Linked DNA regions of Homo sapiens: region 1 is linked to region 2. A link means that fine-mapping ties the variant in region 2 to the expression of a gene that starts in the linked region. Tissue or cell type: whole blood. Region 2 holds a variant in brackets; the other region holds the start of a gene. All regions are shown on one strand. Distances are from middle to middle.

Evidence for each region.
Region 1: MCFD2 starts here. The variant in region 2 is fine-mapped to the expression of MCFD2 in whole blood (TOPMed, PIP above 0.99).

The regions. Positions count from the first base shown.
Region 1 is chr2:46,911,321-46,919,801 of GRCh38, forward strand. MCFD2 (multiple coagulation factor deficiency 2, ER cargo receptor complex subunit) reads right to left here and starts at 4,486. Exons shown (of 4, transcript NM_139279.6): 1 at 4,403-4,486. It also overlaps a transcript of TTC7A not described here. RefSeq lists a silencer at 4,473-4,552 and an enhancer at 4,556-5,530.
Region 2 is chr2:46,948,283-46,956,282 of GRCh38, forward strand. It overlaps TTC7A (tetratricopeptide repeat domain 7A), which reads left to right. Exons shown (of 20, transcript NM_020458.4): 2 at 2,081-2,244. Among named protein-coding and RNA genes, the nearest start is that of TTC7A, 11 kb to the left of the region's middle. RefSeq lists a silencer at 6,848-7,142. The variant C/T (reference allele first, on the strand shown) is at 3,642.

The DNA of each region.
Region 1 (8,481 bases), 37 kb before region 2:
TTTCACCATCTTGGCCAGGCTGATCTCGAACTCCAGACCTCAGGTGATCCACCCGCCTCGGCCTCCCAAAGTGCTGGGGTTACAGGCATGAGCCACCGTGCCCGGCCACCTCAGACCTTTTATATCTGTAGTTTAAAAAAAAAAAAAAGCAATATGTCATACTTAATAGGAAAGAATGCTCAATATATATTGAATGAAAAAGAACAGGCTGCAAAAAAGCAATAAAGAATAATACACTTTTGTAAAATAAAAATGTGTATTTCCTACACAAACTAATAACAAAGATTATCTTGAGACATGAGATTAGAATTGTGATTTTCAGCCGGCATGGTGGCTCGTGCCTGTAATCCCAGCACTTTGGGAGGCCGAGGCGGGCAGATCACGAGGTCAGGAGATCGAGACCACCCTGGCTAACACGGTGAAATCCCGTTTCTACTAAAAATACAAAAATAAAAATTAGCCAGGCGTGGTGGCGGGCACCTGTAGTCCCAGCTACTTGGGAGGCTGCGGCAGGAGAATGGCATGAACCCGGAGGTGGAGCCTGCAGTGAGCCGAGATCTGCTACCATTTTTTATGAATATGTATTCAATGTAATCTATCCCATAATTTTGTCCCAATACTATATGGATCGGATACAAAAGGAGTTTCCGGTTAATTCTTATCTCCACAAAATAATTCAGAAACAGTCAGAAACTACACTTCCAATTTTACCAAATAAAAGTGCCCAGACCTTGGCCAGGGACAGTGGCTCACATCTATGATCCCAACACTTCGGGAGGCCGAGGCAAGTGGATCACTTGAGGTCAGGAGTTTGAGACCAGCCTGGCCAATGTGGCAAAATGCGTCTCTACTAAAAATACAAAAAAAAATTTGCTGGGCATGGTGGCGTGCACCTGTAATCCCAGCTATTTGGGAGGCTGAGGCACAAGAATTGCTTGAACCCGGGAGGCAGAGATTGCAGTGAGCCAAGATCACACCACTGCACTCCAGCCTGGGCAAGAGAGTGAGACTGTCTCAAAAAAATTTTTTAAACGTGTCCAGACCCTGACAAGGCCACTGCCACTGTACCTGGTACCACAAAACAAGGTTTCAGGTTACTCCTAGCAGTGACTGCCTAGGCCATAGCAGAACAACTTGTTCTGACCACACATCTTAGAGTTCTGGGACAGGAAGGATCAGAGAAGGGAATCAAGCTCCTCCCAAGCCTTTCAGACTCATTTACATCAAATGTCTCTTTCTCCAGTGAGGTCTTTTCAATTCCAAGTCTGGTGTAGGTATTCGTCCTGCAGGCTCCCAAGTGCTTCCCTTCAGAAGGCTCCCGTCCACAGCTGATGACAGCTGCAAATTAATTCTTTTTTTTCTTTTGTTTTCTTGTGTGTGAATGAATTCTTGAAAAACTGCCTGATTACTTGTCAGTGCCCCTTGCTGGATGGGCTTTAAGAGGACTTGGACTGAATCCACATTCCCAGTATCAGGCACAGTGCCTGGAACAGAAGCTGCTGGTTCTTAGCCTGTGTGCCATGGTCCTTGGGGAGCTGGGGGGATTACCACCTTTGCAGATATGCTGCCAATTTTTAATGTCACTGTAACTGAAGATGAAACTTTTCTTTTGGAGATATCTATCATGGAACTCATGGCACCATTTCCTCCAACTATGTGATTGGATGCTTAGTATATCAATTTGGTGTGTGTGTGTTGGGGGTGGGGGAAATTCTATTTAGATAACACCAAAAAGCAACCAAGTGATTAATCATGTAGTAACTATGAGTCCAAAATATCCCTTCTTTAAGGGAGGTGGGATAAAGGCCAAGAATCACTGATTTTGAACTTGTCTCATTTTGGTTTGCTGTTGCAGGTTTCTAATCATTGGAATGCAACAAAAGCCAAATCGATAAACATAAAGAAAAAAAATTCCTCCAAGTGGTACACTGAAAACAGGGAATCGGGCTGGGCATGGTGGCTTATGCCTGTAATCTCAATACTTTGAGAGGCTGAGGCAAGTGAATCACTTGAGCCCAGGAGTTCAAGACCAGCCTGGACAACATGGTGAGACTCCCTCTCTAATTAGAAAAAGAGAGAGAGAGAGAGGAAGAAAGGAAAGAAGGCAGGCGAGGGAGGGAAAGATAGAAAACAGGGAATCTAACTGCCACCTAACAAATTAAACTGCTGACAGTCAAGAGAAAGCATAAGCAACTCCCTCTACCCAAATAACAGGTTGCATCATCCATGCTCTAACTACTTAGCTCAAGGCCATGGGCTAACAGCCTGAAGATAAGCCCCAGCTCACTGGCCTTCTTTAGGAAATTATAAAGGCCAGGCTGAAGAAAAACCCAACGGAGGAGAAATTTCTGCAAAGGGACTTCAGGGCACAACCCATACCTTGAGACAGCCCTCACAAGGCGCAGCCTCAGTCCTGGGAGGGCAGTGCTGGACCATCAGGAGCAGTGCGCCTCCCAGTGCCTTGGCTGTCACAGTGCTCCCCTCCTGCTCTGCCAGCCTCTTCCTGTACCACAGCCTCCGCTCCTACTGGTTCCATCTGTCCATCTCCAACTTCCTTCCAGGACAGGTTCAAATGTCACCTCAGGATTCTTCCAGCCAAGACCAATTGCTCTCTCATCCGACCTCAGTCTGTAGCCTCTCACACTCATTTGACCTGAACATACGATCACAGGTTGTTCTCCTTTTCCATTTTTCTCTTTTCCTCCCTCTCTGAGAGTCAGGACCCTCTCTCCTCTGGCTCTCATTTACCTTACTGATCTCTGCTGAGCTGACCTGGCTCATCGCTGAATCAGGGAAGTGAGTCTTGGCACCTAGGTGTATTGTTCCCTATCCCACAGCGGATCTAGCCTAAGCTGGAACTTCCTTTGGAGGCTTCCAGTGGTTTGACCTGGCCCAACCCTTTCTTCCTGGTGTGTCATCAGTCCTATCAGCACTAAGTTTGGGGCCAGCCTTCCTGCCAGCAGCTAGTAGCAGCTTCTCCCTCAAGGGGCCCTTGGTTAAGAATTCAAACCCAAAGCAGCCAAACTCACCAACATCCAGACATCCTGTACCCACAGCCAATGCCAAAGAAAAACTGACCAGTACTTTGTCACTTACCCCTGTCATGGTCCTGGAATGAAGGCAAGAAAATAACCAACTTCCTAAGCTAAAGAAACCTCTACACGGACTGAGGGTTGAGAATTGGTTCTGAAAAAGCAGGCATTTAATATTAATAACTTGATCTATTTGTTCATCTAGGGAGCCCAAGGAGCACCCATGCTGCATTTATACATTTAATGACCGTACTAACAGCACAAGGTACTGAAGATAGTACTATGACCTCGACAAACTCCTCTCACACAGATTACAACCTGGTAGAAAAGAGAGACCGGCAGGCAGACACCCATGGGGTACCACGAAATCCCCAACTGACACCTGAAATAACACATAAAGGATAAGAAGGATTATTTCAACCAAAGGACAGTGCCTCAGACATAGCGAACATACTGAAGGAACATGTAAGCCCAGAAGGAACTTGTTCTGATCTAAGAACCAAAAAAGATTCAGTATGGTTGAAGACACAGTACAGTCGAGACAAATGAATCTAAAGTTAAAGGAAGACAGGTCATGAAGGGCTTTGCAAGCCCCGTTCAAGAGCTTGGAAGAGCAATGAGAATCCACCAAAGGGTGATAAGGGAATGGGGGGACGCTTCTGGTCACATGATCAGATTTCTGTTTTAAGACCATGGCTGTAGCCTCTCTGTATAGAACAAACTACAGAGGATGAAGAAGAGATGCAGGGATCATCAGGAAGACACCGAGGTAGTCCAGAGAAGAAAAGGTGGCCTGAACTAGGTAGGGCAGGGGGATGGGACTGGAGAATGAACGTATCCAAGACAACTTTGCAAGGGATTCGATGTGGGTGGGTAAAGGAGTGAAGCAAGTGAGAATGATGCCCAATTCTGGCTTGGGCACCCGGGTGGATGGCCATGCCCAGAGAGGGAATACAACAGGAGATCAGCTTCCCCCGCCGGGCCCGACAGGACCTGTGGTCTCCCCGAGAGAGGGAACAAGGAGCAGAGGGAGAGTAAGGCTTCCGGCCCGCTGCTTTTGGGCCGGGCCAGGAGCAGTGTCCACCCGACACAGCTGGTCCCACAGGCCGATCCTCGGGCCCCTAGGGACCAGGGAAGGGGGCGGAGATCTGCCCAGTCGGCCCCGTCTGGCTCCAGAGCCCCCGGTGGGGCACAGGCTTCCGCCCCGGGAGACAGGCCGTGCTCCTAGCCGGTTAAGCGTCCCGAGACGGCCTGGGGGCCCAGCCCGCGCCCCCAGACTACTCCTGCCTCTCATCTTGAGCCCAAGCCTCCAGCCCACAGGAGAGGCGCCGGGATCCCGCCCGCTGCGGAGAGTGCGCTAGTTCACTCACCCTTACGGTCTCCGAAGCAGACGCGAAGCCCTCCAACGTGAGCCTCACCAGCCCCCGTCCCCAAAACGCTCTTCCTCGGCTTCGCCCCGCCCCCCCCCCCCCCCCGACCTGCCCTGCGCACGCGCGCTCCCTGCCGCCCGCCCATTGGCGCCGCCGGGCCCCTCCCGCTGGCGGCGGCGGGCTGTGAGGACGGCTCGCGTGAGTCCACGTGTAATCGGCCCGGGCCCAGCACTGGCGGGACTGACGCAGTTCTTCTACCTGCTTTCCCAAGGGCGACACTCGGCTCCACTCCAGTTGGGCCGCTGGACGCCCTAGGGGCCCGGCAGTTGCTAGGCAACGCCGGAAGCCCTCAGGAACGTAGTTCCACGGGCGACGTAGGATGGCGGATCCGGATGGGGCGGACCCCAAAGCTGGCTCCCAACTCCGCTCACCCCCTCCTATACAGGGCTCTTGGTTCAGGTCTCTTGGTTCGTCCTGCTGCAAGTTGGGAAGAAAGATAATAGGAATGCTAATTCCTTCTTGATGAAACGACCACAACACGCTGGAGCCGGCCTTGGACCCTACGTTTCAAGATTGGCCTGCTTCCAGCGTCTGCCAGCTCCACTGCACAAGCTGCGGCAGCCGCTGTCCCCGTTCGCTTCCACGGGAGTCCCAGCAAGACTATGCGACCCAGTTCAAATACCATCTTCCATGTACCGTTCGTGAAATCAGCAGCTTTTGACATTCAAGAGAGGACAGATTACTTAAAAACAGACTCATGAACAAATAGGGAAACGAATACATCATCCCTGTATCGAATTCATCCCTGTATAATCCTGCCCTTACACCTGTGCTCCTATACAAGATTAACATTCAGTAAGTATCCATTGACCTGATGGATAAATGAGTGTAGGACGGTCGTTTTGTTTTTTTGTTTTGTTTTGTTTTGTTTTGAGACGGAGTCTCGCTCTGTCCCAGGCTGGAGTGCAGTGGTGGGATCTCGGCTCACTGCAACCTCCGCCTCCCAGGTTCAAGCTCTTCTCCTACCTCAGCCTCCCGAGTAGCTGGGATTACAGGCGCGTGCCACCTTGCCCGGCTAATTTTTGTATTTTTAGTAGAGACGGGGTTTCACCGTGTTGGCCAGGCTGGTCTCTAACTGCTGACCTCTTGATCCTCCCGCCTCAGCCTCCCAAAGTGCTGGGATTACAGGCGTGAGCCACCACTCCCGGCAGGACGGTCGTTTTTTTTAAAGCCCTTCTCCCATTTCTGTCCATAAAGGTACATAATCGTTTTTCAAATGAGCCTGGGTCCGGACAGGAAAGACAAAGAAAGTGGCTAAGTAGTTAGATGCCTTGAAAGTTGCCTAACGCCACTGCCATTGACGGTCTCATTCCTTTTCCCACCTTCATCTGAGATTGAAATCTGCCACCCCATCCCAGAGAAAAATCCCATAATCCCTAATTTTTTTTTCTTTTTTTAAAGAAAAGAGTCTCCATGGTGCCCAGCTCGTCTCGAACTCCTGGGTTCAAGCAATCCTCCCACCACCTCCGCCTCCCAAAGTGCTGGGATTACAGGGGTGAGCCACCGCGCCGGGACAAAGAATCCCTAAGTTTTGAGGAAACCCTATTAATTCAAGACCCATTCTTCTTTCCTTACTCTGAACTTTGGATTAGTTTGATCTAGTTCCTCCTTCTACCCTGCATCTGCCATTCATCCATCTCTTCATCCATTCATCCACCCCTCCCTTTGTTCATTTATTCATTCAATAACATTTCTTGAATATCTTCTATGTACTAGGCGCTCTACTAGGAGCTACTAGAGATACAAATAAGACAAATGAAGTGTCAAGAAGCTGGTGTCTGGTAGATGGATAAAGTGTCCTCATTCTAGCCAGTGCTTTCATTTTTTTCCTATGGATGTTATCCTGTGTTATGTCTCTCTTGAATCTACAGTCACTCCCTCTCTACCAGATAATTCCCATCAACATATAAACTTGCTGTATTTTCTCCCCCACCATACCACTGAAACTGCAATCTCCATGCAAATCTAGTGGTCTCTTTGATCTCTTGTTTTTATTTTACTTGCCCTCTCAACACTGTTTTATCAAAGCCAACCACTCTCACTTAGAAACACTTTCTTCTCTTGTTTTCTGACACCACACACTCTGGGTCCTTCTGCTACCTCACTCATTATCCTTTCTTGGGCTTCTTAATTGGCTTCTCAATCTATAATTATCAAAGTGTCCAGGGTTCTGTTCTGAGTCACCTTCTCTATCCACCCTCCCTATGTGAGTTTACCTAGTCCTGTGCTTTAGATACCATTTATAAATAGATGACTCCAAAATATGTCTCTCTGACAATGACCTCTCTGTGTAATTCCTGGCTCCTGTAAATAACTGCCTACTTGATGTCTCCATATGAATGTCAGACTGGCATCTCAAACTTAATGTGTCCCCCCAAAATCTTGATTTTCACCCCCAAACCTGCACCTCTCTCAGTCTTGTGCATTTTAGTAAATGTCACTGGTACTCATTCTGTTGTTCAAGCTAAAATTCTACGAGCTGTTTTTGATTTATCTCATCCCTTTACCTTTAAATCCTTCAGCAAAGCCTGTTGATGCTATCAAAATGTATCCTGAGTCTTTGACTTCTTTCCACCTCCACTAAACCATCTAGTCCAGTAGTAGATGATGCTGCTGGACTACTTGAGAGAGAGCTTCCTAACTGACCGTCCTGCTTCCATTCTTGCCCTACTGTAGTCCATAAGTGAGAAGCCACCTTTGATTAAGCCATTTTATAGGTGGGTGTTCTGTAACTTGTAGCTGAACCCATTCCTAACAGGCAAATAATTTGGTACCAGAAGCAGGATGCTAAAAACAAGACACTAAAATATGGAATTGGCTAACTGGAGGTTAAGGTAGCCAGTGTTAAAAGACTGTATGTCAAACTGGAAAGTTGGTGACCCTTATAAGCCGTAGTGAAACTGTCACTTGCTGGACCTTGGATATAGGCCACATGCCAACCAATGCTATATTTTTGGAGAAATCTCACGAGCAATATGGAACATTAGTGAGTGTTGCCTTTTTTAGTAGCTTTCAGCAGACTCCTTCAAGAGAAGGGCAACTCTACGTTGGAAATAACTGATTTGAAAGCAGAGATTAAAGAAAGTAACGACTAGGTAAGAGAGGATCTCTTTACCTGCAACCAGGAGTCTCATAACTTGGAACCTTGCTGAAATACCCCATTTACTTTGTGTACTCAGGTTGAAACTAGTACAAGTAGAGACAGAGAGGTGGCTTTATCAGGAGATAGGACGGCCATCCCAAGATACCAGAATGGCCTCTAGGTGGCATCTCTTTCCTCAGCTGTTTTGAATTGTCTCAAGACAATGTTTTACCTATGTAGGGGATTCCAGAGTGGATGAGAATAGGGGTGAAAATAAGATTTCAATTTACACCTTTTAGTATTGCTTTGATGTTGTAAACTACATATTACTTATTTGGAAAAATAAATAGAAAAATATTGAATAAAAACAATTTAAAGACTCTAGATAGGCTGGGTGTGGTGGCTCACGCCTGTAATCCCAGCACTTTGGGAGGCCGAGGCGGCAAATCACCTCAGGTCAGGAGTTCGAGACCAGCCTGGCCAGCATGGTGAAACCCTGTCTCTACTAAAAATACAAAATTAGCTGGGTGTGGTGACGCATGCTTGTAATCCCAGATACTCGGGAGGCTGAAGCAGGAGAATTGCTTGAACCCGGGCAGCAGAGGTTGAGGTGAGCTGAGATCGCACCATTGCTCTTCAGCCTGGGCAGCAAGAGCTAAACTCTGTCTCTAAATAAATAAATAAGACTTTAGGTAAGTTATTTGTGATTACTATACATGAAATTGATCAGAAGTCTAACAAATGATTGAGGTAATCCTGTGTCCCTAAAATCTCAAGCCTGGTTAACAACAGTCTCTTGCTGTTGGGCCCTGTGGTAATCTCTGAACCCTGGAATTCCTTCTAACAGGGAGTAGGATGCAAAAGGTGTGCGTTCTGCACAAGTAGAGGAAAAAACAAGGGTGCGGCTTCCAGATTCTCCAACTGAGAACTTAATACA
Region 2 (8,000 bases):
GGAGCAACTTTCCCCAAGGCCCACAGCTCTGGAATGTGGCTCTGACTGACTGGATCTATGGGGATGTTCAAAAATAATTTTGATGTACGTTGCCAAATTACCCTAGAGGTTCTACCAACTTATAGTCTGCCAGCAATGAATGATAGTTTGAACCAGGTACTTTTTTGACCATTTCCTTAAAATGTTAATTTTAAAAGTCATGAGGTACATAGCAAAGGATCCCATAACAGGTGCCTTCAGAACGAAACCCCCCTGCGATGGTGTTCTTGGGATTCTGGGCTTTAGAACCGTTCTCTGTGGGGAATCTCCCTTACGGTGAGAGATTCTTCTTCAGAGGCATGAAGTTTTTTGTGTTTTTCTAAAGACGAGGTCTCCCTATGTTGCCCAGGCTGGTCTTGAACTCCTGGGCTTGAGCAATTCTTCCACCTCAGCCTCCCAAGAAGCTGGGACTACAGGCTTGCACTACTGTGCCCAGCTAAGGCATGCAGTTTTGGACTAGTGGCTATGAGATGTTAGCAGACTGTGGTATCCTGAGAGTGAGGAGGCAATGGCAGCCCTGTAGATCTGAGAACACTGTACTGGTAGCAAAAAGAGCACTTTGAAAAAGATGGCACCAAGCAGGCATTCCTAGGGATGTTTTTGGATTGGCACTTAACTCTCGATCCTGATGGCTTCGCTGTGGGGTAGTTGAGAGGATCCAATTCACTCAACAGGTATTTACTCAGTGCTTATATTGAATGGTGGGCCTGCTCCTCACCCCAGTTGCTGGGAGGGGCAATGAGCACAGCCACCCAAGAACCATGGTGAAACCATCTTGACCTCAGACCCTGCACACTGAACACCCGGCTCCCATGCTCGAGCCACCTCTGCTGTAGGTAGCAGGAATCTGGTGGTCACAAGACGAGTTTTCAGTGTGGTAAAGGGAGGCAGCAAATAAACCAAGCAGTATATTATCTTTATTTTTATTTTTTGAGACAGAATCTCACTTTGTTGCCCAGGCTGGAGTGCAGTGGTGTGATCTCGGCTCACTGCAACCTCCGTCTCCCGAATTCAGGCAGTTCTGCCTCAGCTTCCCGAGTAGCTGGGATTACAGGTGCCCATCATCATGCCTGGCTAATTTTTGCATTTTTAGTGGAGACAGAGTTTTGCCATGTTGGCCAGGCTGGTCTCAAACTCCTGACCTCAAGTGATCTGCCTGCCTTGGGCTCCCAAAGTGCTGGGATTACAGGTGTGAGCCACTGCGCTCACTAAACCAAGCAGTATAAAACCACCTACCAGGTGGTGAGGGATGCAAATGAGCTACCCTCATTTGCGGGTATACCCTATATGTGAGAGAACTCCAGAAAATGCAGGTATTCAACATGTTCGAGGATTTGCCTTGGCAACAAGTAGATCTGCTTCCCACCTAACTCTACTGTGGCTGCTAGGTTATCCTGAGTCATGTCAAATTACCTTAAAAACTGGATGGTATGGTGGCTGATGCCTGTAATCCCAGCACTTTGGGAGGCTGAGTCAGGAGGGTCACTTGAGCCTGGGAGTGCCATGATCATGCCAGTGCACTCCAGCTAGGGTGGCAGAGTGAGACTCTGTTTAAAACAAACAAACAAACAAAAACACTTAAAAATGGGGAAAACCAATTATGGTTACATAGAAATTAGGAGCATGTAAAAGTACATTATTAAACCACTTCATGTATTTTTTCTCTTCAATCATTTGGGGAGAATTCTTCTTGGTTTAAGAACTTATTATCCACAGCACAGCATATGTATGACTTTGTCCCTTATTTTAAATTCTGAAATTCTGGGAATTTGTCCCCGAGTCCTGGGAACTCTGTCTTCCCAACCATTAAACTACAGCAGAAAATAAATCCAAGGGGCAATTTGTATTGTGACCATAGTAGAATGCCTGTGTCTTTTCTTTAAAGGCTGTTGAAATTTATGAAAAATGTGCCTTTATTTTCTCAGACCTGAGCCATTCATGTACTGGGTATGGGTGGTTGGGTGGGTCCAGGAGTGTGCAACTCCCTCCATTATCCGCCTTGTTCGGGGTTTGCTGCTCTGACCCCTACTTTGCTTTTCAGATGACTTTGGGAAATTGCTGCTGGCTGAGGCCCTCCTGGAGCAGTGTTTGAAGGAGAACCATGCCAAAATAAAAGACTCCATGCCTTTGCTGGAGAAGAATGAGCCGAAGATGAGCGAAGCCAAAAATTATCTAAGCAGTATCCTTAACCATGGGAGGCTCTCGGTAAGTCGTCAGCCTTCAAGCCTGAGACCTCCTCTCCTCGTCTGTCTTGCCTCGCATCTGTCCAGTCCTCCCTGAGTCATTTGGTCACCTGAGCAACAAGTCTCTCTTACAAGCTGCCCTTGCACTTACAGTAGCCACTGGCTGCACATGGCCCCTTGAGCACTTGGAGTATGGCTAGTCCACATTGAGATGTGCTGTAAGTATAAAGCATACACAAGGTTTCAAAGACTTAGTACAAAACAAAGAATAGAAAAGAGCAGTAACTTTTTATGTTGATTACATGTTCAGATGGTATATTTTGGATATATTGGGTTAAATAAAACATGTTATTAAAATTAATTTCACCTTTTACCTTTTTCAGTGTGACTAAAAAAAATCTTAGTAGAAATTTTTAAATTACACATGTGGTTCACATTTGTGGCTTACATCATATTTTTTTGGACAGTGCTTGGTTGACTTAATATGTGCCTGGCCCTTTGGGCTCCTTGGGTCAGGGGGCTCTCAGGAAAATAAAACCTCAGTGAACCTGTGACCTAGTTAGAAACAGGCAAACATGCAGAGTTGGCTAGGGACAGAAGAGCTCCATAACAGGGCAAGCCCATTTAAGTCCACGTGTATTTATCAAGCACCTACTGAGTACAAGACACTGAGGGAGGTAGAGGACCCACCTCTCCCTCCCAGAAGGAGTATGGTCACAACTTTCTCTGGACTTTGCTGCTCAAAATGTGGTCCACCCACCAGCAGTGTAGGCATCATTGGGGAGCTGGTTAGAAATGCAATTAAGAGAAAAAAAAAAAGAAATGCAATTAAGAATTAGAATCTGTGTTTTAACAAGCTCTCCTGGGTGATTCATATGTGCATCCAAGTTTGAGGCTGTGGCTGTGTTAGATTACAATGTATCCTGAACTATAATAGTGGCATGGGTATGTCATTAGAAACTCAAAAGAGGAGGGGGAGGGGGTAAAAAAAAACTCAAAGAGGAAGTGATCCCTCCCTCCCTCCCTTCCTTCCTTGCTTCCTTCCCCTCTGTCTCTCTCTTTCTTTCTGTCTTTCTGTCTGTCTTTATTTTCTTCAGGGTCTCGCTGTGTTACTCAGGCTGGTCTCCAACTCCTGGGCTCAAGCGATCCTCCTACTTCAGCCTCCCGAAGCGTTGGGATTACAGGAGTGAGGCACTGCGCCCAGCTGATTTTTAAAGAGCTATTCCAAAGTAATATATTCACTTCCTTAAACCTTTTATTCCAACGTACTGTGTGCAAGGCATTGTGTTGTGCACTCTGAAGGCAATCAAGACGAATCCAGCATGGACCCTGCCCTCAAGGAGGTTGCAGGTCTCTTGGGAAGATAAGTCCTATCAGCAAGTAAATAGCCTTCCTCCAAGGTAGACCGTGATAGGAGTG[C/T]TATCCACGAGGAAGCAAGTCTGAGGGGGATGCTCTTTGGGGATAAGCAGAGAGCAGACTCTGAGTAATGGCAGTACTAGAATTGGATCCTTCTGGGGCTGGATCTAGACAAGGTTGTAAAGGTACTTTGGGGCTAGTAAGGGCAGACTGGAACACCAGGCCAGGATGTGCAGGGCTTATTTTGTAAGGGAGGGAAAGGCCAGGGGAGAGGGGAGTGTGTACTAGAAGTTTAAGGTTACTGCTTTTAGGCTCCTTGACAGGTATTGTAGCACTGGGAGGTTTGTATTGGGTTAAAATAGCTGCCTGACCCTGAGCATGCTTGACCCCACAGACCTTCCAGTTTCTCATCTGCTGGTCAAAAGGGTTGGACCAGATTGGTGGGGTTCAAGCTTTTCCCACCAAGACCGCTTTTCGTTTTAAAAATATTAAATTAATAATTAAATGTTAAATTAAATATTTAAAAATTGTTTTTAAAATAAACATGATTCAGCCTTATTGTAAAAATTCCAGTCAACAAATAAGTAATTTGAGTGATAAATAAAAGTCCCAGCTGGCCTATGGCTCACGCCTGTAGTCTTAGCACTTTGGGAGGCTAAGGTGGGAGGATTGCTTGAGCCAGAAGTTTGAGATCAGACTGGGCAACATGGTGAGACCCCATCTCTACAGAAAATTTTTTTAATTAGCTAGGCGTGGTGGCTTGCACCTGTGGTCCCAGCTACCCAAGAAGCTGCGGCTGGAGGGTCACTTGAGCCTAGGAGGTTGGGGCTGCAGTGAGTTGTGTTCATGCCACTGCACTCCAGCCTGGGTGACAGAGCAAGATCCTGTCTCACACACACAAAAAAAGTTCTTGTTTTCCAACCTCACCCTCATGCCCACACCCATCCTCAGAGTTGAGCACTGGTCAGTATTTGATGTGCATCTCCTATGCCTTTCTTTGTGCATTTACAAACATATATACACACAGATATTTCTTTTCATAGAGTTGTAAGATATATATTTTTCACCAAGAAGTTTTATTTAGAGCTTTCTCCATGCCAGTATTGTCTCATTCTTTGTATTGGCTGAATAGTAACCACATGTATTGTGACAACGGTTTTATTAAATACAAATTGTACCATATTTTGTTAAACAAAGACATATATAGGCACCAATAATGTGCAGAAATTTACTGTTATCCAGGCCAGAGCCAAAAACTTAATGATGATCTGTAAAATAATATATTAAATGTCGTTTGTGGGATTCTTTTTTGAGACAGGGTCTCACTCTGTCACCCAGGCTGGAGTGCAGTGGCGTGAACATGGCTCACTGCAGACTGGACCTCCTGGGCTCAAGTGATCATCCTGCTTCAGCCTCCTGAGTAGCTGGGACTATAGGCATGCACCACCACACCCAGCTAATTTTTAAATTTTTTTGTAGAGACAAAGTCTTGTCATATTGCTCAGGCTGGTCTTAAACTCCTGGGATCAAGCAGTCCTGTCACCTGTGCCTCCCAAAGTGCTAGGATTACAGGCGTGAGCCACCATGCCCGGCCATCATTTGTAGTATTTTCTATCTCACCCGCAAAGATCAGGTCACAGTTGGCGTGACCTTTCTTGGCAGCTGATGCAGTCTCAGGTGGATTCCTGTGCATCCAAGTAGCTCTGCTGGATGAGAAGGAGAGCTGGGAGAGGTGGGTCCTGAGGCCCCTCCTTGGGAAAGCTTGAAACCCTTTCCTCTTGGTTATCTCTCTAAGACCCCGTCCAGCTCAGTTGTGTGGAGATCAGTGAAAACAAGCCACTTGTCCTAAACTCTGTTCTGCTACTAGGTTGAGGCTTTGCACCATCGCATGCAGGCCTCCAAGGAACCTTCTGCAACGGTATTTACTATTAGCCCCATTTCTTTTTCTTTCTTTCTTTCTTTTTTTTTTTTTTCAATTTTTTGTAGAGACACAGTTCTTACTGTGTTTCTCAGGCTGGTCTCAGATTCTGGGTTTCAAGCGATCCTCTTGCCTTGGTCTCCCAAAGTGCTGGGATTACAGGTGTGAGCCACTGTGCCCTGCCAAGCTCCATCTCTTGAGACCCAAGAAAGGTGATCACAACCCAGGCCTTTAGTGTCTACAGCCCATGCTCTAATGCTGTCTCTCATTTCTTGGTACTGCCTCCCAGAGTACTGGGGTGGAAATAAAATAATGACTGGGAAAGTTGGATTCATGTGAAAGATGGTGATCACACCCCCACTTTTATAGTTCCCACGTTAGTCTGTGAAGTATTTCCTCATCCGTTCTTTCCTCATACCTGGATATCTCCATGAAGTCCTTTTTCCCCTTTTATTGACAGGGACAGTGAGGCACAAAAGGAGTAGGTGATGCGCTGATCCACACAGTAGAGGGGATTGTTCCTCTGGTAAAGCGACCTCCCCCGTGGCACCCTCCCACTGGGCAAGGGGTTCCGTTCCCTGACTGTTGTACTGATAGACCAAGAATATTTCACATTCAAATGCATGGGCCCCACAGAGTGCAGTGGACTCTTAATGTTGCCAAGTAAGGACATTAAGAAGCAAAAAATAGCAGCAAAATGATACCATCTTCTGCTCTTACTGTGCTATAACAGAAAAACAGTTTAGCATTGAAAGGGCAAGGTAGATATCCTTTCAGAACTAAGAGCCTTTTTTTTTTTTTTTTTTTTGAGACAACGGAGTCTCGCTCTGTCACCCAGGCTGGAGTACAGTGGCACGATCTTGGCTCACTGCAACCTCCGCCTCCCGGGTTCAAGCGATTCTTCTGCCTCAGCCTCCCAAGTAGCTAGGATTACAGGCGCCCACCACCACGCCCGGATAATTTTTGTATTTTTAGTAGAGACGGGTTTTACCATGTTGTCCAGGCTGGTCTCAAATTCCTGATCTTAGGTGATCTGCCTGCCTCGACCTCCCAAAGTGCTGGGATTACAGGCGTGAGCCACCGTACCCGGCCGAGCATTTTTTTAAATAGTGTAAATGTGGCTTTATAAAACATGCCCTGCATTGTCTAATTTTTCCCCAGCTTGGTGGAAGCTCTGTTGTAAACTGCCACTGGTCCTCCAGGAACCGCCACTAGCCACACCCCATCAGCATGCCTGAAATGTCCTTCTCTGCCTCACTGCCCTTGTCTCCATGTGCAGGATAATGATAAATACGCATACCCTGTATTTATCTTGCTCTTTTCCAAAGAAAAGTTCAAAGCTCTTTTCTGGACTTTGCCCTATTAATGCCTTCAGCATCGCTGTGATAGGCAGTGAGGAGTAGGTGTTATTATCTCTCCCTCACCCACGAGGAAGACGCAGCCCGAGCAGGGAGGAAATGAGCCCGTGGCTTGAGACCAGTGCAGGGAACGCAGAGTCACTGCCCAGCTTGGAAGGACTGTGGGCCACATACCTCTGGGATGTGTCATCTGTGGCCCTGGCCCAGGGAGTGGATGGCCTATCTGGGAAGACTAGCAAATCCCCTCAAAAGATTCAGCTTTGGAGAGTTAATTAATAGAGAGAGCAGGTCAGGCGTGCAGAGGCTGAATGGGCCCATTGGTAGAGGCATTGGAGGAGTTCAGCTGAAGGGAGCTCCCTGGTAGTCAAGGAGGCTTTCAGGAGAAGGTGGGCCTGAGCAAGGCCCCAAAGGATAGAAGAGGACCTGGTTAGGCCAGGGGGAAGGGGACCTGAGGAAGCACAGGCAAAAGAGGAATGTGGATTTACAAAGGCCAGAAGGACCAGTTGGGAAGGTGAATTTGGCTTCCCCAGAGCCTGTCTGTGCCACGCTTCATTTCTCTTGGCTTCTGAGAGGGCAGTAGATGGTAAGGAGTGCTGGAGGCTTGCCCTGGGGTCACAGGGACCCCAGACTCTTACCTCCCTACAGGGAGACAGGGGTAGCACCTTCCTGCCAGTGACAAATGCCAGGTGTGGGATGAGAGCTGCATCTTCGGGGAGTTTTATGGACAGATTGGTGCCTGTGTGGCGGGAGCAGTGCCCAGGGCCTGGCCCATAGGCATTGTGAGCCAGCTGAGGACAGGATCAGAGGCAGGGGGCCAGAGCAAATGGCCTGCAGAGGCGGGAGGTTACAAGGAGAACTGGGGCCATGTCCAAGGTCAGAACTCACGTGCCAGGGTGGCACAGCCCAGGGCCAGCACAGCCTCCCTCAGGCAACAGCACAGGATCCCAAGCCACAGTAGGGGTGATCATGGCTGACAAGACCACTGCAGGCCCTAAGGGAGGCCCTGAGAGTTCCTCTGTGGGATGGAGATTGAGATGTAAGCAACTTTTGAAAAAGGAGGGGAAAGAAAACACGTTTAAATTCAGCCACTCTTGGCCTCCGTGATTCTGCACTTTGACCCATTTCTGATAGGAAGAGGATGGTGAC